4 linked regions of the Homo sapiens genome follow. The protein of the gene in region 3 interacts with the protein of the main gene of each other region in a biochemical or structural test. Each region holds a gene or a part of one and is shown on either strand. Other genes may lie near its edges.

Region 1 (7,728 bases), on a different chromosome or scaffold from region 3:
TACAAGCGATTCTTCTGCCTCAGCCTCCGAGTAGCTGGGATTACAGGTGCCTGCCACCATGCCCGGCTAATTTTTGTATTTTTAGTAGATTCGGGGTTTCACCATGTTGGCCAAGCTGGTCTTGAACTCCTGACCTCGGGTGATCTGCCCGCCTCAGCCTCCCAAAGTGCTGGGATTACAGGTGCGAGCCACCGCACCTGACCCCTAATGTTCATTTTTTTTTCCTTTTTTGAGACGGAGTCTCCACTGTTGCCCAGGCTGGAGTGCAGTGGCACGATCTCGGCTTGCTGCAACTTCCACTTCCTTGGTTCACGTGATTCTCCTTCCTCAGCCTCCCAAGTAGCTGGGACTACAGGCGTACGCTACCATACCTGGCAATTTTTTTGTATTTTTAGTACAGACGGGGTTTCACTATGTTGGCCAGACTGGTTGCAAACTCCTGACCTTGTGATCAGCCCACCTCGGCCTCCAAAAGTGCTGAGATTACAGGCATGAGCCACCGCGCCCGGCCTAATGTTCATTTTTTAAAGTGTGGTAATAGCACTGCATTTTTTTAAGTCCTCATCTTTAAGAACTACAAACTTAGAAAGATTTTCCATAATAAAAAGATAGTTTTAAAAAGCCAATTTAGGCCAGGCACAGTGGCTCACGCTTATAATCCTAGCACTTTGGGAGGCTAAGGCAGGTGGACCACCTGAGGTCAGGAGTTCGAGACCAGCCTGGCCAACACAATGAAGCCCCATCACTACTAAAAACAGAAAAATCAGCCCGCAGTGGTGGTGGGCACCTGTAATCCCAGCTACTCGGGAGGCTGAGGCAGGAGACTGGCTTGAACCCAGGAGGCGGAGGTTGCAGTGAGCTAAGATTGTGCCATGGCAATACAGCCTGGGTGACAAAGAGAAACCCTCTCTCAAAAAAATAAAAATAAAAAGCCAATTAATTTTTCTCAAGCCCTTTTCCAGAAAAAGAAAAACAAAACAAAACAAAAAAACCCTGCTGTCTTGAGCTAATGAGACAATTTTTTTTCTTTTAAGTAGAGATGGAGTCTCTCCTACCTCAACCTCCTGAGTAGCTGAGATTACAGGCGCCCGCCACTACACCCGGCTAATTTTTGTATTTTTAATAGAGATAGGGCTTCACATTGGCCAGGCTGGTCTCGAACTCCCAGGTGATCCGCCCACCTTGGCCTCCCAAAGTGCTGGGATTACAGGCGTGAGCCACCATGCCTGGCCTTTATGTCTGGCTAATTTTTTTATTTTTGTAAAGATAGAGTTTCACCATGTAGCCCAAGCTGGTCTCAAACTCCTGGCCTCAGGTAATCAGCCCACCCTGGCCTCTCAAAGTGCTGGGATTACAGGTGTGACACAGTGCCCAGCCTGGGAAATATTTTTAAATAGAGAATTGGACTTGGTAATTATCTAAGGGGTAGTTACAGGCTTAAGCCCTGGCCTCAGCCTGTCCGAGTCTGAACCCTTGTTTACTAAAATAGTTATGTGACCTTAGACAAATTTCCTAACTTCTCTGTGACTCATTTTCTTCATTTGTAAAATGGCGATGATAATAGCACCTACTTATTATTTACTTGTAGTAGTAAAGATTAAATGAGCTTATACATAGCAAGTGGTGAATAAATGTTAGCATTATTATATATTTAGCCTCAATTTCTGGATGTCATAAGAAGAAATAAACTTATTCACAGTTTAAGACCTGTGTGACCAGATTTTTCTTAGTTTGTTTGTTTTTTCTTTGAGATGGAGTCTCGCTCTGTCGCAAGGCTGCAATGCAGTGGCTCGATCTTGGCTCACTGCAAACTCCGCCTCCAGGGTTCAAGCGTTCTCCTGCCTCAGCCTCCCAAGTAGCTGGGACTACAGGCGTGCACCACCATGCCCTGCTAATTTTTGTATTTTTAGTAGAGACAGGGTTTCACCATGTTGGCCAGGATGGTCTCGATCTCTTGACCTCGTGATCCGCCTGCCTTGGCCTCCCAAAGTGCTGGGGATTACAAGCGTGAGCCACTGCGCCTGGCCTCTTAGTCTGTTTTACTGCATATACTGATCAAAATTTAAGAGGTACAATTCCATGAATACTACCTGGGCACTATTTCCATAATTTGGATTTTACCAAACATGTCATAAATGGAAGCTGGAAAAGGGTATTAATATACAAAACAGTTCTGCTGGAAGACTTGTCATATTTTTTGTAGATTAGATTTTTTTAATTTTTAATTTTTGTGGGAACACAGTAGATGTATATACTTATGGGGTACATGAGATGTTTTGATACAGGCATGCAATGCATAATAATCACATCAGGGAAAATGGGATATCCATCCCTTCAAGCATTTACACTGTGTTACAAACAATCTAATTATATTCTTTCAGTTATTTTAAAATGTACAATTATATTATTGACTATAGTCACCCTGTGGTGCTATCAAATACTAGGTCTTTAAAAAATATGGAACGCTTCAGGAATTTGCATGTCATCCTTGTGCAGGGGCCATGCTAACCTTCTCTGTATTGTTCCAATTTTAGTATATGTGCTGGCGAAGTGAGCACCACCAGTTCTTTTTTTCAATCACTTTCACTGCCCTGGAATCTCTTATATCACAGATAAATGGCTGAGAGTAGGGCTCTAGAGGTCCTGGAACTTGATCATGTGGCAGAATATATGGAAATTATCATAAAATACTGATATACTAAGTTGACAATAAAAAGTGTTTCTGCTAAATCTGATACTATTTCTTACTGGATTCTGTCATGAATAAGCAGCTGCAAATGCCAACGATTTTTAACTATGGGAGAAAAAACTCACTTTTAAGAAAAATCTATGCACTTTTATAAATTTAGAAATTAGCACTATTATTTTAACAATGAAACAGCAGGGTTTCCCATGAATGTGGCTTGGGAGCCACCGCGTTAGAATATACTGCTTCTGATGTGAAGGAGACCACTGCATGAATCCCGTGCTATGCGCACCGGGGCACTCCCCGCCACGGACTAATAAAACAATGTTTGTTTGTTTATAAAGCCAAACGAGCCTTCAGAATGGTTACCATAACACACAACGCTATTCAACAAACTGATCCCTGAAGAATAAACGCACCCTAAGCACAGCTACCTCCACACCTTTGATGGCAACCTTAAACGATGATTCAGGCTCTGGCAACAGGCATCCAACAGGTTGTAAAAAGAAAGGGGGCAGTAAAACAGCTTTGGGTGATCCAGCATCCTGGAATGGGAGGTAGGAGCAAAGGCAAAAAAGAAAGGTACCTCCAGAATTGCATCTTCGAGCAATCTCCCAATATACAAGCCCGAGGGCATAAATATCAGCACATTTAAAGGAGTCAAAGTGTTTCATATTAATGGTTTCATCAAGTACTTCAGGGGCCATGTATCTGCAATAGCAAAACAAACATGGTCACGCACAGAAAATGATGACTGCTCTCTTTAAATCAAAGTATTGATTCAGGAGCCCTCTGAATGTGGAAGAGTATCACCCTGATAAAGTCCCTTGGGGCAGAAGAAGTGTACACATCTCTTCATTGCAAACTCCCATGTTTTAAATTTGATTCTAAATACTTCAGCACAGATTTGGCAATACCAGGCTACTCTGATGTGTATCTCTATTTTTAACCATCAAGATTTGTTTATTTGGCCAGGTGCGGTGGCTCACGCCTGTAATCCCAGCACTTTGGGAGGCCAAGGTGGGCGGATCACCTGAGGGCAGGAGTTGGAGACCAGCCTGGCCAACATCGCGAAACCCCATCTCTATTACAAATACAAAAAATTAGCCAGGCATGGTGGCAGGCGCCTGTAATCCCAGCTACTCGGGAGGCTGAGGCAGGAGAATCACTTGAACCCGGGAGGCGGAGGCTGCAGTGAGCCATGACTGTGCCATTGCACTCCAGCTTGGGCAACAAGAGCGAAACTCCATATCAAAAAAACAAAGAGAGAGTAAAGATTTGTTTATTTGAAGCATGTTTTGACTTCTTGGCAGAAGTACTTGTAATGTGGGTCACAGGGGCAGTAACAGTACCTAATATTTGGTTGACACCAGGGTCCTTCACTTTATTGAATGTAGTCACAGTGATGGGTTGAGCTTAAGTTTCATTCCGAACTGCTTTTGTTATCTTACCTGACTATAGATATGTCAAAATTAATTCTAGAGGTGGTCAGCGGCACCCTTAATGACTCTGAGTAGTAATTATGAGTAATTACTATGATTCCAGCCACCCCAGCCCCCACAATAAATCAGGGGATAATCTTAATTAAATTCATTTAGATTCAGCAGATTTCCACCTCTTCCACTCTATTAAAAGGCAGTCCCATTTCCAACTCATGAAGTCAATTTGCAATCACAGCTCCTTACTTCTTACCTCACTTCTGCATGAAGTGGGAAGCAGGCCCATAATCTTGAAGGGTGCCCCAAATCTCTATCCTGGGTTACCTTTGCTATAGTTTGGCAAATCTGGTCTCCAGTCCCTAAGCACATGCTCCCTGCCTCCTTCACAGCTCTCTGCACAGGAGATGACAGTGTTTTCCCTCTTTCCCGAGCCACACCTGTTGCCTGCTATCCTTCTAAATCCTGCTCTAGATTGTCCTTCTCTACCCTCCGACCTTAATACCACCAACACCAATGTGCATACAGTTTATGGAGCTGTGCTCTCAGCACTTGTATCTGTTAGATGCAGTGATGCAACTTTCCATTGTGGGGAGTGCATGTTCAATTCAACTTTCAGTGGGCTGAGAGCAAGGTCCTCGCCTCCTTTTTCAACACCTCCTTCTCCTGCGCATATGGGAAACGGCACAGATGGGATACTCAGTAGAAGCTGCTTAGCAAGGGCAGAGTCCCAGGCCCTCCTACCGTTTGGTCCCCACCCTCTGATTCGGGGCAATGTCAATGGTGTCAGTGACTGCATCATGACGGACAGCCAGGCCCAGGTCTGCTATGGCACACATGCCATTTTTCTTCACCAGAATGTTCTTTGACTTTAAGTCTCGATGAGCAATTCCAGGCTTCCCTGGCAGAGAAAAAAACAGGGATCTTTACAAAGAGATGATATAAATGTTAAAAGCATAGACTATGCAGCCAGACTGTATAGGTTTGAGTCCTGGCTTTGCCTCCTGCTAATCCAGTGACCCTGGAAAAGTGACTTTAGCCCTCTGTACCTCAGTCTTCTCATCCATAAAATCAGAATGACTACTTATTTCATGGGACTGTTGTGAGGATTAAATGCATTCATGTAGCTAAGTTACGACCATAGAAGGACATGTGTATTTAGCTAATATTTGTATTAATATTTACTACTACTACTCGCCTTCCCTGAGCAAATATGCTCAGGTACAGAAGTGCTGAGGGACTGAAGGGAAGTTGCTGCAATGCCTAGTTCTCAGAAGGAAACAGGCCCGATGATGAGAACTGGCACCGCACAGGCTATAGGAATAGGATCCAACTTTCACGGGTGATTTTCCATTGTGGCCCTGGTCAACCAGGCATCAGGGATCACACCTGCCATTGTGACAAGATCCAGGATCTCCCAAAGAGCCGACATGATAATCAACAAGTAGCAGAGCTTCAGGTCTTCTTCCTCCAGGAAAACCTTCCCAGATTAGTAAGGCCCAGAATCTAATCCACCAAGTGGCCTTTAAGCCAGCTGTCCCCATCAATGAACATGGAAATCACTAAACTGATGTTCCCAGTACACTGGTTTATCTTTTTAGTTCCATTTTTTCTCATGTCTATTGTGGGATTCTAAGATGATTACTCCTTCGTAACAAATGACTATGTCAAGCCACTGATTGACAAGTAGCTGAATATTGATATTATAGGGTTCCTGAGGGAGTTCTATCAAGACAGAGGTGAAGGGAACACCCTGTAGATACCTCACTTAAGTGAAGCTCAAACCTCCTTTCCTTTAAATTAAACTAGAGTTCCTGAGGTCCAGCCCCAACTTCCTCAGTAAAAAGGAATTCTAGGAACTAAATCAGGACACTGCGGACCTTTCATGCCTACACCACTTCGCCGCTCCTGCGCTAGTCCACTCACCTTGGGTGCCCACGATCTCCATGTGCAGGTGTGCCAGCCCACTAGCAGCAGACAAGGCCAGCTTAATCATCCCCTCAATTGTCACTGTGTACCGGTTCAGATAATCAAACAGGGACCCGTGCTCATGATAGTCAGAAACAAGCCACAGCTGTGTCCAGGTGCCATTATCTGCAGAGAACCACAGATGAGTCCCAGAAAAAGTGTAACTATCAGCAAAACAGTGAAGGTTGGTAAGGATGAGTGTATACAACACAAAATCAGGTTAGACTCCTGAATTCACATTTCCCACCTCCATGCCCCCTGAAGCCCCATCTAGCATCCTTTCATTTATAGTGGTCTACCAGTTTGGGACCTCAGTAAGGACAGGGGAACACCATTTCTTTCTTAGGACTGCTCCTGATTTCCTTTAGGTGAACTGTAGGATTCTGAACATTATGTCAAATTTGAAATGTGAGGTACTCAGGAAAGAGGAGGCATATGCCTGGGGAAGGTAACAGCTATCACCAGCTTTGTGTGCAGCACTGCTTTGATCCTGACCAAGACTTGCTCATCTGCACGGGAGAACCACAATGAGCTGGATCTACCACCACCAAACAGGAAAGCCTTGGAGGGCCTCCTGTGTCCCAGCGACCCTCTGAACACAGCCCAAACACAGCACCTGTCTCATCTGTAATGTTTCTTTTCAGTCTGTTGTTCTTACCAGGCTATGATATCTCTGTGAGTAGGAAAGATCTCCTTTATGGATTATTGGATTCCAGGCCAAAAAATGCTTTTCAGTGCATGAATAGACCACTTCCAAGTATTCCCAGAAAGGCATCTCATCCTTCAGAGGAGCAATGGAAGGTAGAGTGCATACACTTTATTTTCTCTTTTACACTAGGGACAGCAGGAAGGAGGAGAGCAGGAGGAGGGAGAAAAAGAAACACCAAAGCCAGGAATCGAATTAAGCCATGCCGTTGTCAATTGGAAGACTGGAAATTGAGTTGAAATCTCCAAAATTCCAGGCTGGCGCTGATTCCAGGGCACCATACTATATATACCCCATGTTAAAAAGGCAAGAACGAGGGAGTCTGATTGTTTCCCTTCCCTGGCCTTAAGGTGGGTTTTGAAAGCCAGATCCCTACTCACACAAGCTGCCAGAATCAATAAAGGGATGGATCCTGGAAACACACACATCTTGGCTTCTCTTATCACAAACAAGGGGCCCACCCAACACACTGCTTCTCGCACTCTAACCAGCCCCAAAGTCCTGAGGACCCTGCTAACAAGTTCAAAGAGAAGACATGATTTGATCCTTTTAAAACATATAAGATTTAAATTTTATCAAAAGGTGATAGTTTTAAAAAGGAATAGCTTACTCAGTGGGAATAAAAATCTTGCTCTTCCCCTTCCTCCCTTGTATTGGAGTCTAAGGCTCCTCAGCTTGGGGGCAGCAGAGACCATTACAACTTCCCATGGCAATGTGAGGAATGAGCAGTCTGCTGTTGTTTCAGGAATGAAAAACAAATAGCATCTTCTGTAGGCTTTGTAGACACTAACTTCTAAATTGCACCATGCCACAGGAGCAAGTCATGTCACAACTGCTAGAGAGACCCTTCCACAATGTGAACCAGCCACTCACAGCATCCTCTCTGTGCTCCGGGTGCCACTACCTGTCCACGTGTCTGTCCCCTTCTTCCT
Region 2 (7,728 bases), on a different chromosome or scaffold from region 3:
AAATGATCTAAAGAAACCAGAAGGAAAAGCCTTCACAAACAAGACTGATAAATGCCCAGACTTGGCCCAGACAGCCAACCTACAGTTGATGACAATTATTTACAAGGGGGCGTTATCAAACAAAAATGGTAGCACTCCCTAGAAGATGCAAACTTTTTTCTTTTTCTCTATTTCTTTTAAACTTCCTTGTCACAAAAGCCAACTTACATTAAAATATACTTACTACAAGACAACACAACTAACAAAATATATAATAAACCTTACATAAGTAGAAAATTCTGAGGTATTTCTGGTTTGAGGTGATCTGTGGTCGTGAAGTTTTAATTCTTTTACTTTTCAAAATTTAAACCTTGGAAGCCACATAGCGAAGCATGTGTATATGTGGATGTGTGTGTTTTGTTTGAAAAAAAAAATTTAGCATGTTTCATAAATTAAAAAGAATTCAAATGTTGAAACAGCAGCATTAGGAACATTCACTGACTAGAGCAAGGTTATGGCATAATAGAAAAACAGTTTTTTAGAATATGTACCACTTTAAGGGGTCTGGAGAAAGTCTTGTCCACGAGCCACAGAACGGGGACAGTAATGTCACCACCTGGGGCGGAACCAGAGGTGCAGGACTCTGGGGTCCCCAGCGAGGCAGGCCTTGGCAGACTCCACCCAGGAAATCCTCTTGCCCTATCTGTGCAGGACAATCCCCTGTGGGCATTTCCCTGAACTGCTCCAAGAGGAAACAAAAGTATTTCAACTTTTCGTCCATTAAGGGTATTTACAGCATCGTGTCTTATGAAGAATGTATTCCTAACCTGTGATGATTCTACCCTCACCTAGTTTTAAAATTAGGGCAGAAAAAATGTTTCATCCTATGCCCAAGGCCAAGTTAGTGAAAAGAAACTGGTCAGGGCCAGCAGGTAAGTCAGGGCTGCACCCAATCTCAGACTTTCTCCAAACCCCGCTCTTGCTGTTAATGCTCGGCCTCCACAAGGTCCTTCCCCTCAATTCCTGGTTACCTGAGAAGTAGCCTCCATACTAAAGGATGCTGCTCCGAATGTGCCCGAGTCCAGTGTAGCTCTGTTCCAAACCCTACCCCCAGTACCGTCCTCCCCTTCCAACTCCAGTCCAAACCATTCTCATCCCAGTTTTTTTCTCGATCAGGACAACACCCGTTAGATCCGTGAAAGACACATCTGCTGTTTCTTAAGCTCACTAAAACAAAATAAAAGGAGGGGAGGGAGGGAGGCAGGGGAGAAGGGCAGAGGGCAGAGGAAACTCCTCTTCTGAGGAAGGTATGTTCTTATGTAACAGTCTTCAAAGGTTCCTCTAGGTAGAGTTTGCAGCATTAGGTTTCCTAAGACAGGAGATGGGTTTCTTTGTGTCACAGATTCTGAGACGACAAACAAAGAGAAAGCGGGAAAAACGAATCCCAAAGGACAGGAGGTGGCTGAGGCTCTTCAGCATGGCGCTGGTTCTGCATCCACAGCTCAGCACCTCAACGCCTGCTGACGTGTCCGCTGTTTGTGATACAGTAGAGCAATATGCTGGTAAAAACTGATCCAATCCAAAAAATAATATTAATAATAATAATTATAATAATTATAATAATAATAATAAAAAGTCAAGGTAAAATAGCAGCTGCATTTTATGTGTTTGTTGGTTTTATGGGATTTCCAAAACAAAACACAACTTTTTTTCCTTTTTTCTTCAGATCCACTGAGTCTGGACAGACACTCATGTCCTGGGCTTAGATGCTTGACTCTTTAGGGGGCAGGTCCACATTGGTGACAGAGGTCACCAGGGAAACGAGACAGTCCGAGGTAGTGCCGTTGACCGACCTCCGAATCAGGGACACCCGCTCCTCCACACAGCCCGCGGACAAGCGAGCCTCTGCATCATGGTCCCAGCACTCCTCGATGGTCACACAAAGCTGGGCCAGGCCCTAAGCAGCATAGGGCAGACAGGAAAGACACCTTTGTTAGGACCCTTCAGTGAGGAAAAGCTTTGGGGGACAGTAAACTTGATATTCCCAAGGATCAGGCAGAGCCCACCAGCCCCAACCACAGCAGCAGGTCCACCAGCAGAGGCCTGGGGAAAACTTCAGGAATCAGCATGCCTGCCTTCATGGCAGTCATCTTTCTGAGCTTACTGGCCTCACTCCACAGCCCTAGGAAAGGTTCATTGAACCTCAACATACACAGGAGGGAGAAGGAGACACCAAGGCCCCTACTAGGATAGACACCACTACTTGCCTTGAAGTGCTGATATTCAAACAAAATCTTATTGGAAGCCCAAACCATACAAGTGCCCAAAATGTAGCAGTTCAGTCAAAGTGGGGATCAGGAGAAGGACATCATCCTACCTCACTCCCCATAACCCCTGGAACACATCCCTAGAGTCCAGGGAACGTCGCAGACTTTCTATTTGCCCATTCCCCCTTGATTTCAGCTTACCTGCTACACATGAAGGGTTTTCCCTTCTCCACCCCCCTGCAAAGTTGCCTGAACCAGGCCCCTTACCGGGTGTTTCAACCAGTGATCTTTAATGGTGGGCCTCATCTTCTTGTGCACCACCACCTCCTGCAGCTCCTCCAACGAAGGGTGCTGGCCAATCTCTTCCTCAAAGGGCAGCATGTACTCATCCACGGGTCCTAGGAGAAAGAGAGAGCCTGGCAGGATCACTCTAAGGTCCCACTGCTCCCTATCACTCAATCTAGGATGCCCAGGGCTGCCATCCTACTTACCGTCTGCAGCCTTGCAGCGAGACACAAGCTCCCACAGCACCAACCCCATGGCATACATGTCAATGCGCAGGAAGGCATCTCTCTGGAAGTTGATGGCTCCCTCGAGCACCTCAGGAGCCATGTACCGTCTCGTGCCTACCTATGTGAGGACAGAGGAGGGCAGGATTTACAGTGACTGGCCATACACACACAGCTGGGACATGGGAGTTACAGCCTCTGTGCACCAGATGGCGGGCAAGACAGAGCAATTCAGACAGGTTATCAATGATAGCAAACCTCGATTCACCACATTCACAACAGTTACAAGAGGTCACAGCATCAATTATACTTGGCTAATAATTTTTAAATACTATATCCTGGAGATAATAGTAATCTAAAATGGAATTGTTACCAAATTAATACAAGGAACTACAGATGATATGTATCTGACTGAGATTAAGACCAAAAACAAAGAGGGAAGGAGAACACTTAAAAAATAATAACAGTGATTGTTTTAGGAATGATTTCCTAAGTTTAATTTTTAGTTACTTTTTCCAGGTTCTTTGTTTGGATCCTTAGTACATTTCTTTGTTTTGTCTTAGGAATTAAAACTAAAAAAGTGAGAGAAAGACTAAGATTGCAAGGACTAGTGGTCAAAACCCCAGTGGGGAATCTCTACATTTCCCAGCTGACTGTCCTACGGAAGCTAAACTACACTGCCTTCCTGGTCTTGGTTTCTCCACTGGTCAAACAAGAGCATTGCTCTAAGTTCTCAGACAGCTCTGAACGCATGCAGTCACCCTCATCCCTGCACCTCCCCAGCTGAGCACAAAAAGGGCAAAGTATCTACCCTGGGTCTGTCCCTCTCTTCCTGCCCTGTGAGGCCTGTTACCTGTCCGTGGGTGTCCCCTGGAGGTTTCCCTGGCTCAAATCGAACAGCCAAGCCAAAGTCAGCCAGCACGGCTGTGAGGTCGCTCTTCAGCAATACATTCTTACTTTTAAAGTCCCTGTGGAAACAAGTGGGCAGAGATAAAGCTTAACATCATGATCCAACTCCCACCTTGGTTCCCAAGATACTAGAGTCTGTGCCCTAGAGTCAGGCCCCAGACCAGGCCATCCCACCCTACCTGGGGTGCAGAGGTGAAGCAGCACAAGCAGGCAGCTGCAGGCGCCGACATGGGTGTGAGAATCCCTCAGTGCACTTCAGATGGAAGGCTTCCCCCAGGGTTGGCAAAGCAACACCTACCCTAATGGCTGGGCAGACCCTGTCCCAGTCCCCACACTATCAAAGGCCAGCCCATATATTCTCAGAGGGGTTGTGGACAGGCACACTGGCCTGGGATGCAAGTTTTCTGAGAAGAATTTACAGCATTTGGAATGTGAATGAGAATAGGAATTTAATATTAGCTTTCCTAGGATCCTGCAGAGACCCCTTAGGGTCTCAAGCTCACCATGAAGGCCGGCTGGAGCAAGGGTGCTATTGCATGCACCCAGCTCCACCTCTAACTAAGCAAAGCTACTTGTGGTACTCAGTTTCCCCAGTGCCTGTCTCAGCCTTGTGAGGATTCGACTGAGTGGTAAGTGCAAATGTTTAGGGCCACACCTGGCATACTTACTAGGTATTCCTATTAAGTTGAGCCATATAGCAGAGACAACATTCAACCTTTTGACCTATAAAAACGGCAATTTCATACAGTCTACCTTCTATGTCATTACTGTTATTACCATCAGGGACCCTTCAGCTTTGAACGCTGGAATTTGAGGTTCATTCCCCTCCCTCACAGTCACAGAACCAGACTCAACTAGCTACAAGACCTTGGCTAAGTCATTCAACTTCTCTGTACTACTGTTCCTCCATCTGCAAGACAGAGCTGAGAAATACAGTACTTGTCTCAATGGGCGGTAATGAAGGTCAAATGAATTGATACTTCTCAAGTGTTTAGAGCACTGCCTGCCATTTAGTAAGCATGACAGTGATGAGCTCATCCAGAGTTTCTTAAAGGGTGGTTCGAGGACCCCAGAAGATCTCTAAGACTGTTCCAAGGGAATCTATAAAGTCAAAATTATTTTCATTTATTTGCTTTTATAAGGCTCATTCTCTTAGGAGCATAGAGTTTTCCCGAGGCTACATGAGATGTGATGTCCTCACTCTGACAGCGAATGGGATGTGTGGGTGTGCTCAAATACAGCAAATATCAATAGTCATAATCCACTTACACAAAAGTCATTTTAAGAGTATAAAGGGATCCTAAACTAGAAAATTTGAGAACTACTGAGCCAACTCTCCAACCAAAGTAATGGAGTCAGCACTTCATGTGGCCATTAGAGGGCACCAAAAACCAGCTTGGGAGGCCATGCCATCCCCAGGACACAGTGGGAAGGCCAGGTTTTGTGCCCAGCTGCCTCGGACACACAGCAAGCAGGGTAAGTATGTTTAGGAAGTTGAGACATCTCCAGACACTGCTCTCGCCCACCAACCCTTCCCACAGCTCCAGGTCAAGTGCAGGAAAGGCACCTGCTGACCCAGGTACCTGTGGGCAATAGACGGCTTGTGGCCCTCGCCACGGCACCAGGGCACATCCTCATGCAGGTATGAGAGGCCTCGTGACATCGTCTCTGCTACATGACACAGTTCGTTCCATGTGATGATGTTCCCCTTGAGGTAATCCGTGAGGGAGCCCTGAGAGAAGACAGCACAGAACTTGAGCACAGATTCTGGGTACAGGACAGGACCCAGCCCAGCCCTGGCAGAGAAGTCTCAGTGGGCCAATGGCTAGGCTGCTCTCCTGGAAGGCTACTACAATCGATATGGAAGATGGATGAGGCCAGGAGGCAGGGAGGGCTAGGGGTGGGAATCATGGAGTCACTACTCTTATCATAAAAACTTATCCCAGGGTGAGAGGTTCCTATCATAGGGGAACCAATGTCCACACCTATGGCAGGAGTAACCCCATAGTGGATAGTGCTACCGGGGCAGAGTACTTCATGGTGGACACCTCCACAGGGAAGGGGTCATCATATTATGGAGAGCCACCAAGGGGACATTCCATCTCCTCTCAGAGTCCATTCTGATGGGTGTGGCTCACCTTGTCATGGAAGGCCGTGATGAGCCACAGCTCTACTTCGAGGTTGGAGCCTCGCTTCTCGGCAGCAATGAACTGTAGCAGGTTCTCGTGCTTCATGCCAGGTGTGCTGAAGATCTCCCGTTCACTCTGCCACGACTGCTTGTCCTGAGGCCGGGGGCGAGGGGTTGGGGGGACAAGTGGCTGGCTTAGCCCTGCTGCAGTCACATTGCCCTACAGCAGAACAACCATTCCCCATTCCCCACCCTCAAGCCTCCCAGCCCAATCCCCACCCCCCAGCCTCCCAGCTTCAGCATTTGTAAGGGGACCAGGAGAAGACCTGTATTAAGCTAGGCCCCAGAGCATGAGGCCAACAGTGATCCCTGAGATCACTTAAGGCTAGCACTTCGATTTACAAATGGGGCCACTAAGGTCCATGCATGGGGTGTGAGTGACCCCGTATCACCCAACAAATGAGGCAGAGCCAGACCTGGTGTCCAGGGCCGCTGGAAAGAACCCAATGTCAAAAACAAAACCCTGGTAACCGGGGCAAATCAAGGTTTTGCAAAGCCCTACCCTAGTCCTATGATAAAATTCCATAGTTGCATGAAATCTACAGACCAGCCAAGTGTAACATGAGTAACTAGGCCCAGTAAGGCTCACTTTTCTCTCATACCACAATATTATTTGGGGTTTGGATTGCCCCAGGTCAGGAGAGCCTCCAGTTCAAGCTACAGTGGAGGCAGAGGACCTGGATGGAGCCCCTCAAACACTCACCTGGAGTGGGAAGATCTTGACAGCTACAAAGTCATTCATGAGCTGGGCCTTCCAGACACAGCCAAAGCGCCCCCGAGCCTTGATCTCCAGCAGCTGCAGTGGCTTCAGGCCCACCAGAGGGGATGGTGGTGGAGGCCCAGGGTCCTGGGGGAGAGCAAGGCTTAAAAAGGTCTGGCCTGTCCTCCCCACCTCTATCCTGCCCTGCCCCAAGCCAGCACTGTCTCACCTCATGGATGTCCACATGACCGTAGGGGGGCTTGCGATGCCGGTACATCCAAAAGGCCAGCAGGACGATGAGGGAAAGGCCCCCGATGGGCAGCAGTGAGTAGGCCAGCACCGTGAGCAGGGTGGGGGCTGTCGGGGGTGGCTCGTACGTGACTGGGGGACACACAGAGCCCTGTGTCAAACAGTCTGCCCACCCTCACACTTCCAGAGCCAGACTACAGGGCCCTGTAGCCACACCCCACCCAACTGAGGAGCCAAGCGCTCCAAGCCAAAGAAGCCCAGGTCGGCTGACTCAAGGCCCCACTTCCACACTGCCCCCTTACCTTCCGGGCCCCCAGCCTCTGGCAAATGAGTGAAGCGTTCGTTGCAGAAGTTGCCTTCACAGCAGCAGAAGTACACCTGGGGGTTCTCCTCAGTGGCCACACACTCCTGCCTGGAGGCACAGAATTTTCCATATACCCCTCACCTGGGGGATGCAAGACTCCCCCAGGCCTGCCCTGCCAACCCCTCCTCACAGACAGAGCACCTCATGGGCAACACCAGGGGGACGGTGTGAACTCACCTCCCCTACAGGAGACCCAAAGCCAAGGAAGAACAGCCAGGGGTTGACACTGAGACCCCTCCTCAGGGCTAAGGTAGGACAAATAGGGTGTGGAAGGGCGTGGGGCCATGGCTACCATCTCAAGAGCCCCTTCTTGGTCCTTTATCTCCCACTCAGACATCCTGAGACCCAAATGGCCCAGTGGGCAGTATAAGCGCAGGTGGGTCCAAGAGGAAAGGAGGGCAAGTCTTGGGGTACCTATCGTAGCAGTTGAAGTCATCTAGCCAGCAGCCCTTCTTCACGAGCTCGATGGTGCCAGAGCTGTTGCGCCAGGAGGCGTAGCAGTGCAGCCGCTTGTCCTGCTCGCCTTCGCAGCGCTCCAGGCCGCTCTGGTTGGTGCGCTCCAG
Region 3 (7,706 bases):
CTCAGTTTCCCTCTCTGTAAAAGGGAGATGGTAAAAGTAGCCACCTCACAGGGGTGTTAGGATTAACTGAGATAATTCATGTAATGTGCCATGCCCAGCACAACCAAAGTTCAATAAACATTGGCCATCATCAGCTGCCTCATTATTGCCCAGGTCCGAGAGTTAGAAATGAAGGTGTCCGGACAGGCCACAAGGACCTGGACAGGGGTGCAAAGTTTCCTATGAACAGGATGGGCAGTGGGAAAGGCTGGGTAGGGAAGAGGCTGCTCCTTCCTGCTGAAAGAAGTCTGTGACCCTTCCTACCTTCTCCCACTGCTGCCAGGGTGCCCTGGAACAGGGCTGATAGGTTCTCTGGTTCATCTTAGAATAAGGGTTCTAATATTGTGGGTGTCACTGGTGCCTGATGCAAGGTAGGAATGTTATCAGAAAGAAACACACATCCAAATACAACAAATGTGATTTTAAGGTGGGTATGAGGAAGGGGTTCATGGACACCCAAAAACCCATTCATATGCTGAATGCAGACTTAGCCACACAGATGCCCCTGATGTCCTCCTGGCCCACCTCCAGTTCTTTTTTTTGAGATGGAGTCTCGCTCTGTGGCCAGGCTCGAGTGCAGTGGTGCGATCTCAGCTCACTGCAGCCTCCACCTCCTGGGTTCAAGTGATTCTCCTGCCTCACCCTCCCGAGTAGCTGGGACTACAGGTGCGCGCCACCATGCCCAGCTAATTTTTGTATTTTTAGTAGAGACAGGGTTTCATCATGTTGGGCAGGACGGTCTTGATCTCTTGACCTCATGATCCGACCACCTCGGCCTCCCGAAGTGCTGGGTTACAGGCGTAAGCCACTGTGCCCGGCCCCACCTCCAGTTCTGAAGAAGAAAGTGGCTCACACCCTTGGGTTCCCTTCCAGTCACCGACACCGCCGTCCCCAGACAGGGCTGTGAGGCAGGGCTGTAAGGACCTGACACTGAGCACCCACTCTACATTTTCATAAATTATAAGGGTCGTTACCATCAGTGGCTTCCCGTGTGCCAAGTGTTTCACAGGCATTCTCTAAATCTCCTCACTGTTCCTCTCATCTCACCATTTGCAGATGAGAAAACTGAAGGTCCAAGGTGAAGGTTAAACGGCAACAGATACAGATGTAAACCCAATTGGACTCCAACATCCCTTTCATGCAACTGCGGTGCAGCTTATTCTAAATAAACCCAAGATGGAAGGAGTGGGGCCAGGACATCCCTTCTCCTCCAGTCTCCCTCCAGGCGGGCTCTTCCCACTGCTCTTAGAAAATGAGGCCAATTCACAACGTAACTGTGCCACATGCCGCTGTACACTAAAAAACAGTGTTTAGGCCGGTCACAGTGGCTCACGCCTGTAATCCCAACACCTTGGGAGGCCGAGGCAGGCGGACCACGAGACCAGGCGAGACCAGCCTGGCCAATATGGTGAAACTCTGTGTCTACTAAAAATATTAAAAAATAGCTGGGCGCAGTGGCGCGCGCCTGTAGTCTCAGTTACTCGGGAGGCTGAGGCAGGAGAATTCCTTGAACCTGGGAGGCGGAGGTTGCAGTGAGCCGAAATCGTGTCACTGCACTCCAGCCTGGGCAACAGAGGGAGACTCTGTTTCAAAGAAAAAACAAACAAACAAAAAAACAGTGTTTAGCTGAAAGAGAGCAGTCTCCTAATTTACAGAAGGGAAGGCAGATAAACCAAGACGCGCCAGGGACAACAGGGAATCAGGAAGCAGGATTTGAGGCCTAGAACCCAGTTTCCAGATGCCTGTCCATCACCGCACACATCTCGAACTTTCCAGAAGGGAGTGAACTGGAAAAGCGCTCCCTCCCTTCTTTGCCCCCTCCCATCCCCGGCCGCTTTTCGGTTGAGGGGCCGAGCACTCCAGCAAATTTCTCATTGCCCCGCCCCCGAGGGTGTCCCCTGGTCTGGCTGGTCCCCAGATGACCCTTCCGGAGAGGGTCACCGGCTGTCTGACCCCAGGCGCGGGAGCGAAGGGCCCCCGGCACCAGGTCACAAGGGGCGGGCAGGCGGCAGGTCGGATCAGATTAGCGTTTGTGGATTGCGCCCCGGCCCCAGGGAGGGCCGTCTGGCCCCCGCAGGCGGAGGGAGGCGTGGGCGGCCGCGGCTGCCCAGGCGGCAGAATGTGGATTGAGGCGCGGAAGGGGCTCCCTCTCCGCAGCACCCACCTGCTCGCCGCGCTGGGTGCCCAGAACGCGCTGCCAGGTCCTCGAGGGCGATACCCTCAGATCCCTGCCGTCCTTGACACCCACTCCCCTGCAAATCATGGCCCCGAACCCGGGGTTAAGCGAGACACTTGACACTTCCCCGGCGCGGCTGGAGGACCCAAGGCTGCCACAGTTCGCGACTTCGGGACAGCCCATCCCTGATCTCCGGGCCGTGAGCCCGAATCCCCGATGTTACCAGCTCAGCTGCCGATACTCCCGACGTCACACCCCGGGACCCATTCACCCTCACTCGCAGAAAGAAAAAAAAATCGCCAAGACCAAACCATTACAGTAATACCAACGACCGTTGACTGTGGCTGTGCCGGGTACTGCGCTGAGCGTTTCGCGCGCATTGTCATCTCGCGCTTTCCACAGTCTGATAGGCGAGGTGTTATTTATTACACCTATCCTACAGATGCGCAGACCCAGGCTCCGGGATAAGCAACTTCACAAGACTGGAGATTAGAAGCTCCCACCCTTCCGCGCTGCGCTCCGCGCAATCCCAAACCAAAACCCAGAGACAATGGTCCCCGTCGAGGACACACCCTGAACGCTAGAATCCCTTCCCGACTCGGCCGTGGATACGCCCCCAGCCACCAACGCTGCACCCCGAGCCTGCTGACGCGGAGACACCCGCAGAGCTAGGCCCTGGGCTCGGGACGCCCGGGCGGCTGCAAACCCGGCTCGGAGCCGCAGCCCCCAACCCACAGCACTTCCCGAGTCCGCTGGCTGGACGCGGCGGAGGCGCCCCGGGGGTGCCCAGCAGGGCGCGGCACGCGGCACTGCCTACCTTCTGCCTGTAGGCTGCGGATGATGTCTGCCCTCGGCAGCGGGTCGCGGTAGAGGCTCAGCATGTACGCCAGAGGGGATGGCGACGAGGGCTGCCCCCGCGTACGCAGGAGCGCAGTGGCCACCGTCGCAGCACCCGCCTGGAGTAGGGCCCACCAGGCGTGCAGAAGGAAGGGCAGGCAGTGGGCGTGCATGGTGGGCTGGCCAGGCCTGAAAGCAGCACCTCCAGCCCTTATATCCTGGGCCTCAGCAGCCGCCCCGCCCCCACCTTTCCTCCCTCTGGGGAAGCTTTAAGATCATATAACCCCCCTCCGGAGGGTGGGGGGCAGAGAGACCTCCTGCTGGGGATGGGCGAGACCTGAGCCTGGTGCGGAGGAGGCCCGCAAAGCTGGCGGAGGACCTAGTTCCAGGGACGGGATCTAGGGCTCCTGGTTTGCCCGGTCTGGACACCCTGGCACCCTGCTCCTCTAGGTACCAAACGCCTTGATGCTGAGACAGAGCAGGCTTGTCCCGGCAGATTCCCAGGTCAGAACTGCGACTTCCTTACTCGACCTCACCTGGGATCCCTGCCCCATCCTCTCCACTCAGGCTGCAAATGGACCGCAGGCTCCTCAAGAAGCAGGAAGAGAATGCCGAGGGATCCTCGTGGCTCTCAGGCAGACTTTGACACAATCTGGCCGGCGCAGCCTCCCTGGCCACTGTCTAGATGGCCTCGGGGAGCACCCCTGGCCCTACCAAATACTGAAGTGCTTTCCTGGGGAAGACAGAAGGCAGGAGGGACCAGGACGATGACTTCTCCACCTGAAAAGGGAGTGTTCAGCAGAAGCTGGAGCCAGATGGAGCCAACGGGGTGATCCTGGTTCATCAGGCTCTTCCCCGACAGGCAGACATCACCCCAGTGATTTCAGGAGGAAAGGTGTTACCCTTGTTGCCCACATCCCCCAATCCCTGCCTGGTGTGGCAGGGCCACAGAAGACCTGGGTGTCGGCTCAGGGCCACTCACTTTGATCTCTGGGCTCAGCTTTCCTTATTTGCACAAGAGTGATCTTGTCTGGCCTCCTCCCTTCCAGGTGCAAAGTCAAATCAGGGCTGGAATGACTTTTAAAGAAATGTAAATCCCTGCCCCAGTGTCTGGCCCCATCCGTTTTCCTTTACACCTGAGGGCTCTTTCTCTTCTTAGCTCCCCCCACCTACCTAGCCTTGACAAGCACTTAGCTGCTGGCCAACACTTACTGAACACTTACTAAGCGCCAGGCATAGTGCTAAGTGCTCTATACACCTGACTTCTTTCACAGGATGCCTCTAGCTCAAAAGAACCATAGGCTGCTGGCCAGGCACGGTGGCTCACACCTGTAATTTCAGCACTTAGGGAGGATGAGGCTGGCAGATACCTGAGCTCAGGAGTTCAAGACCAGCCTGGTCAACATGGTGAAACCCTGTCTCTACCCAAAAATACAAAAATGAGCCAGGCATTTTTGTGGTGTGCGCCTGTAGTCCCAGCTCCTCTGGAGGCTGAAGTGGGAGGATTGCTTGAGCCTGGGAGGCAAAGGTTGCAATAAGCCAAGATCGGGCCACTGCACTCCAGTCTGGGCAACCGAGTGAGTCCCTGTCTCAAAAAACAAAACAACAACAACAACAACAACAACAAAAGAACCATAGGCTGCGACCTGAGCAGGTTGTTAGAAAATGGAGAAAGGCCCAGCAGGCTCAACTAGGAGCTCCAAGCCTTTGTCCTCTGTCTTAGGGGAGGAGGCTGTCCCACATAGCTGGAGGCCTCATCTAAGATTCAGGAGACCTGGGCTGTCCACCACATGAGCCCTGGACAGTCTGTTAGTTTCCTAAAGCTGGAAATGTCTTGTTCATCCTGCTGTCACACAGTATATACCATCATCATCGTTGGAACCCAAAAAATCTGTGTTAAGTAAATAATTCAGGCCAGGTGTGGTGGTTCATGCCTGTAATCCCAACACATGGGAGGCCAAGGCTGGAGGATAGCTTGAGGCCAGGAGTTTGAGACCAGTCTGGTCAACATAGCAAGACCCTCTTTAAAAAAAAAAAATAAAAACAAGTAAATAATTCAGTGAGGCCAGACGCAGTGGCTCACGCCTGTAATCCTAGCACTTTGGGAGGCTGAGGTGGGAAGATCACCTGAGGTCGGGGGTTTGAGACCAGCTTGACCAACATGGAGAAACCCTGTCTCTACCAAAAATACAAAATTAGCTGGGCGTGGTGGCACATGCCTGTAATCCCAGCTACTCGGGAGGCTGAGGCAGGAGCATCGCTTGAACCCAGGAGGCGGAGGTTGCAGTGGGTCAAGATTGCGCCATTGCACTCCAGCCTGGGCAACAAGAGTGAAACTCCGTCTCAAAAAAATAAAAAAAAAATTCAGTGAATGGCACTATGTCTGAACTTGCCTGAAGATACGCATCACCTTGGTGTTTGTTAAACTGTTGACTCCCCTTTTTTTTTTTTTTTTGAGATGTAGTTTTGCTCTTGTCGCCCAGGCTAGAGTGCAATGGCACGACCTTGGCTCACTGCAACCTCTGCCTCCCCGGTTCAAGCAATTCTTCTGCTTCAGCCTCCCGAGTAGGTGGGATTACAGGTCCCCACCACCATGCCCGGCTAAAATTTGTATTTTTATTAGAGATGGGGTTTTGCTATGCTGCCCAGGCTGGTCTTAAACACCTGACCTCAGGCGATCCACCCGCCTCAGCCTCCCAAAGTGCTGGGATTACAGGCGTGAACCACTGCGCCCGGCCAAACTATTGATTCTCAAGTCCAGACCCAGACCTTCAGATTTAGAATTTGGTGAGAGGGCATGGTCATCTACATATTTCACAAGCACTCCAGTGATACTTTTTTTTTTTTTTTTTTGAGACAGGGTTTCACTTTGTCACCCAGGCTAGAGTGCAGTTACACAATCTCGGTTCATTGCAGCCTCTACCTCCTGGGTTCAAGTGATTCTCCTGCCTCAGTAGCTGTAATTTCTGCCTCAGTAGCTGGAATTACAGGCACATGCCACCACGCCTGGCTAAATTTTTGTACTGTTAGTAGAGACAGGAGTTTCACCATCTTGGTCTCGAACTCCTGACCTCGAGTGATCTGCCCGCCTTGGCCTCCATAAGTGCTGGGATTACAGGCATGAGCCTGGCCCTCCAGTGATTCTGATCAGCCAACTTTGGGACCCACATGGGCTAGGGTTCTTGTTGCAGTTTGTAACCCACCTCTCTACATTGTTTCCTCATCTGCAAAACTTGTCTAGAGATTACTCCTCCCATGTAGACTAAACGAAATGAATGTAAAAATGCTTTACAAGCTCTAAAACCTGATGTCACCGTAGAGGATGATGCATGCGGGTATTATTGTGGGTGGTCCATGGTTGTCATCTGACTTCCCCAGCCTAGAGACTCAGCCTCAGCCCTCTGTGTCAGACCCCTCCCCAGAGGCAGAAGGCACCCTCATCCAGGTCATGCACATATAAATACAACAATGACAGGTTGTGGTTTGTGCTGTGGGAGCCTCTGACCAGGACTCAGGTTCCAAGGATGGCAGCACAGGGAAGGCACAGACAACTAGATGGAGGTGCAGGAGTCAGACGCAGTGAAGCCAATTCCAGAACCCAGGTCTACCAAATCACCATGTGGCCTAGTGTGTAGGTGGTCCCTGTTTAAACATGCTCAGCTCAGCTCAGAGCACCCTCATCCACTGAGACTGGGAAGGAACAAAAAAGATGGCATGCTTTCCATGCTGGACCAGAAGCTTCTTTTTTTTAATTTTTAATTAATTAATTAATTAATTTTTTGAGACGGAGTCTCGCTCTGTCGCCCAGACTAGAGTGCAGTGGTGCCATCTCGGCTCACTGCAAACTCCGCCTCCTGGGTTCACGCCATTCTCCTGCCTCAGTATCCTGAATAGCTGGGACTACAGGCGCCCCCCACCACGCCCGGCTAATTTTTTGTATTTTTCAGTAGAGATGGGGTTTCACCGTGTTAGCCAGGATGGTCTCGATCTCCTGATCTTGTGATCCACCCGCCTTGGCCTCCCAAAGTGCTGGGATTACAGGCATGAGCCACCGCGCCTGGCCGGCGCTCACTGTTTAAGGTAAAATGAATAATAATAACCATAGCTAACATTTATTGAGCACCTAATGCACCAGACATTCTGCTAATAATTGCATTGATTTTATCCTCATCCCCACTTCAGAGACGATGAGAAAACAGAAGCTCAGATAATTTGCCCAAAGCCACAAATTTACAAGTGGAAACAGCCAGTATGTGAAGGGTCAGTCTGCTTGTCACCCAAACCCGTTGCTTCCCCATAGAAGAGGAGTGAAAATGTGCCTTGTACTAAGACTTTTAAAAAAACTCTCAAATAACGTCTTGCCTTTCCCAGGGTCCAACAGCTGCAGACAGCTCATTTCTGATGTGTATTGGCTTAGAGCCCTGTGGAGGCCTGGAATTTCTCTCTGACCCGCAAGAGCAACTGTCTGACAAAGCTCATCCATCTCTGAACTTTCTTGGGCTCTGGCACTATCCCTGGAAGAACCTGAATCTCTGTTGCTTTTTTAGGACCGAGGCTAACAGTCACCCTCACTTTTTAAAGACATTAGTTAGTCCAGGATCTCTTTCATATAAGAAAGACCAGAAGTGCCCTTTTTCCAGGTGAGGAATGACAC
Region 4 (7,728 bases), on a different chromosome or scaffold from region 3:
TTAAAAGTTTAGTAAATATATACTCAATTATCTGGGAAAACAATATAAATTTAGTCTACCTGTGAGATATGGCAGGTTTGTGGCCATCTTTTAGGCCAGGTATATCCTCATGTAAATATGCCAATCCTCTAGCCATGGTTTCTGCAATATGACACAGTTCATTCCAAGAGACCACATTAGCCTTAAGAAAGTCTGATAGTGAACCCTAAAAAAAGAGGGAAAAAAAGAAACTTATGTTCTTGACAAAGGCCATATGTATAAGGAGACTTTTCTTTTTACCTATAAGAGGTTGTGAGTTTCCCTTTCAGGGAAAAATAATATCCAAGAAACAATCTTTCTGGAATGGTTCAAATGGTTCAAATTTCCTTCCATTTCACATTAATAAACATTTGACCAGAAGGAAATACCAGAGCTTTAAACTTTTGTTACAAGAATAGTCAACTTCCACCAATCTATAAGACAAGTTTGTTTTTTTTTTTTTTTAAAGACTAGTTGAAAATCTAAGGTTCTAGAAAATATTTTAAAAGTTAAAATATCCTGACTATAGAGTTGTTATATCATGGGACTAGCAGAACACAAAATAACAACATAAAATAACAACTAATATGTAGAATATTCCTCTAGATTATTGTTGTCCTTTAGGTCAAGATAAGAGAAGTAAAAGAACCACTTACATTTCACAATGATGAAACCAATTACCAAAAACATAATTTCCTACTTCATTAATGGTACTTTCACACTGACTCTAAAAGTAGAAAAATTGAGGAAAACTAGCAATTACATTTTGGTGATAATTACCCTGCAAGTTAGTGACAGATCAAAGATCAGATAAATTTCCTGACTCTGGTTTTGTCACAAGCAAGACTGATTAAAACTTAAAAAAATGGTTCACGTAATCAAAATGAATTGTAAATGGTAAATGAAAATTACTAAGCATTACCTACACTAAAATAAATGTTTGTAAGAGTAATTACAGCACAAGAAATAAGGAACAAAAGGGTGGTTTATATGAGTAGAGTTTTAGGTTAAAAAGTTGCCATCTTTGCTCTTTTATTAAAATAAACTACCTTTTAAAACATTTTTATTCAAGAATGATTTTTATTTTCAGGTTAAATATTAATCAACTATAAGATGTCTCGAAAAATAACTCTGAGGGATTTATAGCCAGCATTAGGTAGGCAGGCCAACTCAGACTTTACTAAAGTAAAACGTTAAGTAGTTTTACCTTTTCATGAAATGCTGTGATCAGCCAAAGATCCACATCAACACTGGTGCCTCGTTTTTCTGCACCAATGAACTGTAATATGTTCTCATGCTTCATTCCAGGCAAACTGTAGACTTCGTATTCATTTTGCCATGACTGTTTGTCCTAGAGTCAAAAAGAAAGAATAGTAAGAACACAAGGAATACAGGTTTAATAAACCATGCATAAGAGATTACTCAAATAAGTTCCAAAGTAAAACAAAACAAAACAAAAAAGTCTTAAAAAATTTTTTGTTCTGTTTTGTAATAAGAAAAAGCTCTGACAATAGGTTAACAAATTTATACTAAATGCCTGCCCTTTTCATTCCCTCAAAACGTACTTTTCTGTGTTTCTAGTTTACAAACACAGAAGGTGATCGGAAATGCTGCATTCTGTGTCTTACAATGGCAACACGTAAGTTACTGCAAGTATTACACTGTAATTTCATCATGGTGTGAAGTTACTTGTGGTACTATTCAGAATAATCTCCTTGAAAGATGAAATTCCGGCAGAATGACTTCCTCTAAATAGAAAACTTCTTCTTTTCAAAAACTAACATAATATCAAACATCCTTCAAAAAATGTTTAGCATACCCTACAAGGTCTATGAGAAAGCAAGGGGCAAAGATATGCAATGCAATAATTTAAGACACCATATATTCACTTGTGCCTGCAAGCAATCCATGTCTACTAAGTATCTACTTATAAAAGATTAGCTTCTTTTCACTACTAAAAGACAATAATAGTAAGAGGCACTATGGCATAATGGTTAGAAACCCTTAGAAACTCTCTGCATCCAAACTGTCCAAACTTAAATCCTGGCTCTCCCACTAACCTCTGGCAAGTTACATAATCCTTCAGTGTCCTCATTAAGTAGAAAAGGCATTGTAGTGTCTGTCTTATAGAATTGTTGTATTATATGTTGCATTTTATGTACATGTGGGTAATATACGTACACATATTAGTGAGTACTCATATATGTAAAACACCCCTACCTGACCCAATAAAAGCATACAATAAAATGTTAGCTACTGTTGTTGCTGTTGTCGGGCTTGTTAATATCATCCAAATGCCTTTCTCTGAGCTTTATGCTTCCTTACACATGGAAATAATTTCTTCCCTTATCTTATTTATGAATCTTGGCACAACAGAATACACTTTCTCTCTGAAAACTAAACTGTGGTTTACAGCTACCAAAAAAAAATGTAATACAGTTCATAAACTCTATGTAAACAGTTTATAGACTGAACAGAGGAGGTAAGATTGAACAGAGGAGGTAAAAAGGTTAAAATCTAGGTATATTAAGACAAAGAAACTGCTTATATGATAACTTTGGAAAAAGAAACATCCACTCTCTAAGTATGGTGGTAGAGCCTGCAACACCAAATCCAGCCAAGACGTCAGTACCAAGGGTATCATGAGCTGCCAGGGTATATAAGCAAGAGATGGGGAAGACAGAATCATCATAAATCTATACCACCAACGGAACAAAACAAAACACAAGAATAGCTCAGAGGTACATTAGATCAGAGTTTTATGAGAAGTCCAGCCAACCTTAAAAACAATTCAACAGTAAACCAATTATTTGAAGTCTCGATTGCCTCTGAAAATGCATCAAACAAAAACTGAAATAATTAAACACTCAAAGTAGAATGAAAGTAAGTCAAGTCTGGTGATATACCTCTAAATACCAATTCTAAAACAAAGTATACTGCTCTTTTGTTTTTTTGTTTGCTTTCTCTGACAACGTAGGGGGATATTAAAATTTAACCACTCAATTAGACTTGTTTATTGGAATCTTTATCTTTATTTAACATTTCTATTAGAATTTTCACTGGCAAAAGATCTACTATGCATTCATTTAATTCCACCACTCCAGACAAACATAATGATTGTTATATTAACAATTCCATTTCTCAGATGCAAAGGCAGGCATTAAAAGAGCTAACTGCTTTCCCCAGTATCACAAAGAACCACCTTGGTACATATGGCTTCTGTTTTGAGACTATTTCTGAGTTATGATGACCTAGCCATAAAACATGTATGTAAGATGACAAAACTGCAATAAACATACCTGTATTGGAAATATTTTGACAGCCACATATTCGTTAAGCAACTGGGCTTTCCAGACACAACCAAATCTTCCCCTTGCTTTCACTTCTAATAACTGCAGTGGTTTCAAACCTAGTAATGGAGAAGGTGGGGGTGGTCCTGGGTCCTACAGATAAATAATAATAATACTATAAATAAGCAGAACATGACACACACCAACTCTGAAAATGAGAAAAAAAGTGAGTATACTGAAAAGTCAACTGACAGAAACAGTAAACACATATGAATGACATTAACTTCAATGTTGCCATAATTAGATTACTAATTATCTATAGTGATCACAAGGCAGGCAACCTGAATTCAGAGTTTCATAATAATGTTCAGCATTATTGCTATATATGTACCACAGGAGAGAAGATCTAAAATCTTTCTGATCAGTCTCAGTAATATTCCCCACTAAGATTTTCTGTGAACTACGAAATACTCCTAACAATATTTCATTTGTTTCATCCAGTGTGTACTTCGAGGAGGATGATTTGAAAAGTGCCAGAAACAGCAAATTATGACTATATATCAGCAAAAACCTCTCCTGAAGATCTATTACTTTCTCCAGTGACTGTTTAAATTTTTTCTTCATTAATCTCAGAGATACCGGCAGTCATTCTTAAACACATTGCAGATAGGTATATCAAATACAAAGCACATACAGGAAATATGTAAGTAAATATTTCTTTAACCAAACTGGTTCATTCTAATTTTAAACATATTAACAATTCATCCCTTTGATCTGAGATAAAAAATCATTTGTGTTCTGGAACTGACTGACTGGCAAAGAAGTACGAATAAAAATCCAGAAAAGAAGTGGTCATCATAGTAGATAACAGGATATGGTAAATGAAAGAAACGTGCACTGCTATAGTTTTTTAAAAATAGAGCAAACATAATATATAAATAGGAATACAGCATCTACAAATCACAAGGAAATCCTATCAAAGCAGAATGCAACCCTCCATTGAAAGCATTCTCTCAGTTCCCTATCTGCAACTAAAGCAAGATGCAGGAAGCCTTTTGGAAAGCTTCCAGAGAAAAGCAACAGAAGGGTTTGGAGGGCTGCATAATGAGTATTTTGAGGAGGAACTAAAATTTCTGTGGCAAAAGCAACTGATATGATGACACTGGGTGGCACCTCAGACACTTGGAAATGGTATGTGATCCCAGATCAATGCATCCTCTCTGCCTTTCTTTTTCTCTCTTCTTCTAATGCCTCAAAGACAGTTAGTGCTTTCTTTAGGCATCACTCAGCTCACTGGTGCCACTCAGGAGTTTTAAAAGTTTACTGTGTACTAGAAAGAACCTCAGCAACAGAAACATTGCAAGGTGTTATGTAGGAAAAACATGCAATTTCTTCTTCTAAATGAAACCATCTTTATAAAATGGCTTTAGAATTCCTGTTTAAACAGTAAGATAAAACAAAAGACTTCTTGTGACTCATTTCAAACTCAGACTTTTTTTTTTTTTTTTTTTTTTTTTTTTTGTCTACAAGTTGCTTGTCCTTCCCACATTCAAAACATGAAAGAACGTTTCTGTTTAGCAGAGTGACGGGTCAAGGAGGTCAGATATAAATCTTATAGGAAGGATGGGCTCTCAAGTGTGATTCTCAGTGGAGGGGACACAAGAACCTCTAGAGAGTTTTTATTAAAAACTACACCCTCCCTCCCTCATTCTTCAAGTGATCACCTCTATCCGAGAAATTCTACTGATCAGAGCAGACTGCTTATATGAATGTGGAGACAAGAGAAAAAAAGCTTGAAAACAACTCTTCTACAGGAAAGGAAACCATTCAGTCCTCAAGGGCAAAGAGTTATTGTATAACTGCATAAAGACATATTTAAACTAAATAGAAAATGTTAGAAAGGTAGAGAGATAGGTTTCAAACCAGAGGGGATGCCAAAAACTAAAAACTAAAGTATACAGAAAATGGCTGAAAGCTGAAGAGGAAAAATAACTAGGTAGAGGGAATACAGTGCTAAATTACAATATTAAGATTTTTAATAGCTTTTATGTACACTGGTAATGTCTCTATAGTTAATCTACACATTACCCATTCTCTGTTCTAAAGGACATCAACAACATGAATATGATTCAGTCTGTAAGATATAGATTATTTAATCCACAATTAATATGTCAGCAATTCAAACTATGATTTTAGTATAACATTAATTTTAGAAAAAATAATTTTTAATATCTACATTAAAAAAAAAAGTTCATTAAATGTTTTCCAAATGCATATACTTCAAGTTCCCATACATTCCCAAGGCTCTGTTTAACAAGTTTCTAAGCTATCATTATTTCAGAAAGAAATAATCTTAGATCACCCTCCTACTATAATTTATTCAATATTGTATAGTAACAGCCAGAACAAATATTGTTGTCAAAATTACTTAAAAGGTAAAAGCTTCAATTAGAAAGAATACTGGTCAATTTCGAAAGGGTGACAAAAAGGTCTACAAGGTCTTCCTGTAGAATCTCAAAACCTTTAGCAATGACATGAGCTTTTCAAAAATGGAATTTTAAATAATATTCTTTAATACACAAAGGATTGGGTTCAAAAATGATAACTGTAGGACAGATTATAAAATCTCTAATCCTTTTTAAATAAAAAATTACTAGAATGAAACTTTAAATTCATCTGTAAGTTTCACTCATCCTATAATAGTAGAAATGATTTTCAATTAATTGGCATCATTATAGTAATTTATTCACAAAAAAATCAATACTTGATTCTAAAAATAAAAATGTATACCTTTAAAATATATGAGCCCCTGGGAAGACAAATGTAGACATAAATTTCAAAATGACAAGCAATTTCTGATGTCATACACAAAATATGGCTTTACCTGGCTACATAGAGAAACCAATGGGGAGCTGAGAGGCACCTAGAAGGATTTCAGAATTCCTAAAAACTTCCCTAAATTTCCAGTTCTCTTACAACATCCATGCTATTTTGCAAAACTAAAAAGATATGCATTCAAACACAGTTCTGATTACATTTCTTCTTTACTCATTTATATGTAAAAATTATGGTATCAGAAGACATCAGCTTCAGAACACATACTGAAATGATAACCTGGTAAAAAGTAATCTCCTGCCCCCAAACCACTACCCAATATCATTACTATAACCAACAGTGGAATAAATTATTAGAGGTGGGAAGCTACAAAGTCATCTCTGATCATTTTACTTATTCTGAGTTCTCCATTTGAAGGGTGAATTTTAATCTAATTAAACGCTTAAACCTCAGATAGCAAAATATCATCAAAAGTTATACTCCTGTAGCTAGTTCATTTGCTAAAGATGCCAAAGATGAAGCTATCTAAAAATATCTATTTCACATTTAAATACAATGGGCTGGATTAGAAAATCGACCCCTGTTAAAAATGAACACATGCTGACATTTAAGCTAATGACATATAAAAATTAACCAATACAAGGTTTTTGAGGCGAATGGAGCCGTTAAGGTGTTAACTTCTAATCAAGTAAAACGGTTTTTTCTACATCCTACCTTAAATAAATATAAATACTCTCAGTCTCTTAAAACTAAAAGCCATTCCTAAGTCAAATCAATCACATTTTAATTATAAAAGCTGGGTGAGGGAGAACCCTTTATGACATAAATATATAAATTATAGAGGATGCACAGTAAAGCAGTAACAACAACAAAAATCTAAGAACAAAATGTTTAGTATGCATCCACAGAAAGTTCCACAACCATAAAACAAACATCAATGCATCTTACCTCTATCATTATATGAAAGGCGTGCTTGTGAAGAAAAAACACAGGCAAAAGAAATTACGATTCATATCCAGAATGAAATGAAAAATGACACATCAGTTACAAAAGTGAAGGAAAGAGAATAATGGTTTAGTATTTTAAAAGTTGGCAATGATCCAAAGTTTTACATTGTTTAAATAAAGATAGGGAACACTTTCCTTACAAACAGAGGAAAGTAATATCAAAAAGAACCCCTTAGATATGAGAGATAGGTGGTAAACAAATTCTTGACTCCAGTTTAATCCCAAGTTAACTGATCCAATGACTTCATGCCTGCAAACAAACTAAATCAAGTCTTAAATAATGATTATTTATTTTTCTAAGAGCCTCTAGAGTCTAAATTATAAAACAAGGAATTTACAAATTGGAATTGCCTTCTCGACACTAGAGGGCAGTATTGCCTTTAGCAAAAACGAGCTAGCAGCCCTAACAAATTTATATATAGCTAGAAATCAGTTTCTCAGACTTTCTGATAGTTGTCTTAAGAACCTCTAGAATTTCCTATTTCCTGAACTGCCTCACTTCCCTTTCATGGAAGACAGAATCATAATGGTGAGACAGAAAAATGTTTCTGGTGGCTATGTGCGTGCACCATAATACA

What was found.
Region 1: the proteins of NODAL (region 3) and ACVR1B form a complex in vitro, tested with the Homo sapiens proteins (one study listed by BioGRID).
Region 2: the proteins of NODAL (region 3) and ACVR2B form a complex in vitro, tested with the Homo sapiens proteins (one study listed by BioGRID).
Region 4: the proteins of NODAL (region 3) and ACVR2A form a complex in vitro, tested with the Homo sapiens proteins (one study listed by BioGRID).

What each region holds. Positions count from the first base shown.
Region 1 is NC_000012.12:51,982,487-51,990,214, reverse strand, and holds part of ACVR1B (activin receptor type-1B isoform a precursor), read right to left. Parts: intron 7,530-7,728; coding exon of another isoform or gene 7,407-7,529; intron 6,872-7,406; coding exon of another isoform or gene 6,867-6,871; exon of another isoform or gene 6,223-6,866; intron 6,217-6,222; coding exon 6,049-6,216; intron 5,024-6,048; coding exon 4,867-5,023; intron 3,398-4,866; coding exon 3,273-3,397; intron 1-3,272. UniProt on the Homo sapiens protein: Transmembrane serine/threonine kinase activin type-1 receptor forming an activin receptor complex with activin receptor type-2 (ACVR2A or ACVR2B).
Region 2 is NC_000003.12:38,477,346-38,485,073, reverse strand, and holds part of ACVR2B (activin receptor type-2B precursor), read right to left. Parts: coding exon 7,580-7,728; intron 7,214-7,579; coding exon 7,104-7,213; intron 6,934-7,103; coding exon 6,782-6,933; intron 6,700-6,781; coding exon 6,556-6,699; intron 5,947-6,555; coding exon 5,803-5,946; intron 5,397-5,802; coding exon 5,248-5,396; intron 3,724-5,247; coding exon 3,609-3,723; intron 2,877-3,608; coding exon 2,738-2,876; intron 2,645-2,737; coding exon 2,514-2,644; intron 1,937-2,513; coding exon 1,742-1,936; 3' UTR 1-1,741. UniProt on the Homo sapiens protein: Transmembrane serine/threonine kinase activin type-2 receptor forming an activin receptor complex with activin type-1 serine/threonine kinase receptors (ACVR1, ACVR1B or ACVR1c).
Region 3 is NC_000010.11:70,438,443-70,446,148, forward strand, and holds the start of NODAL (nodal homolog isoform 1 preproprotein), read right to left. Parts: upstream 3,240-7,706; 5' UTR 3,226-3,239; coding exon 3,033-3,225; intron 1-3,032. UniProt on the Homo sapiens protein: Essential for mesoderm formation and axial patterning during embryonic development.
Region 4 is NC_000002.12:147,910,924-147,918,651, reverse strand, and holds part of ACVR2A (activin receptor type-2A isoform 1 precursor), read right to left. Parts: intron 3,462-7,728; coding exon 3,318-3,461; intron 1,370-3,317; coding exon 1,226-1,369; intron 206-1,225; coding exon 60-205; intron 1-59. UniProt on the Homo sapiens protein: On ligand binding, forms a receptor complex consisting of two type II and two type I transmembrane serine/threonine kinases.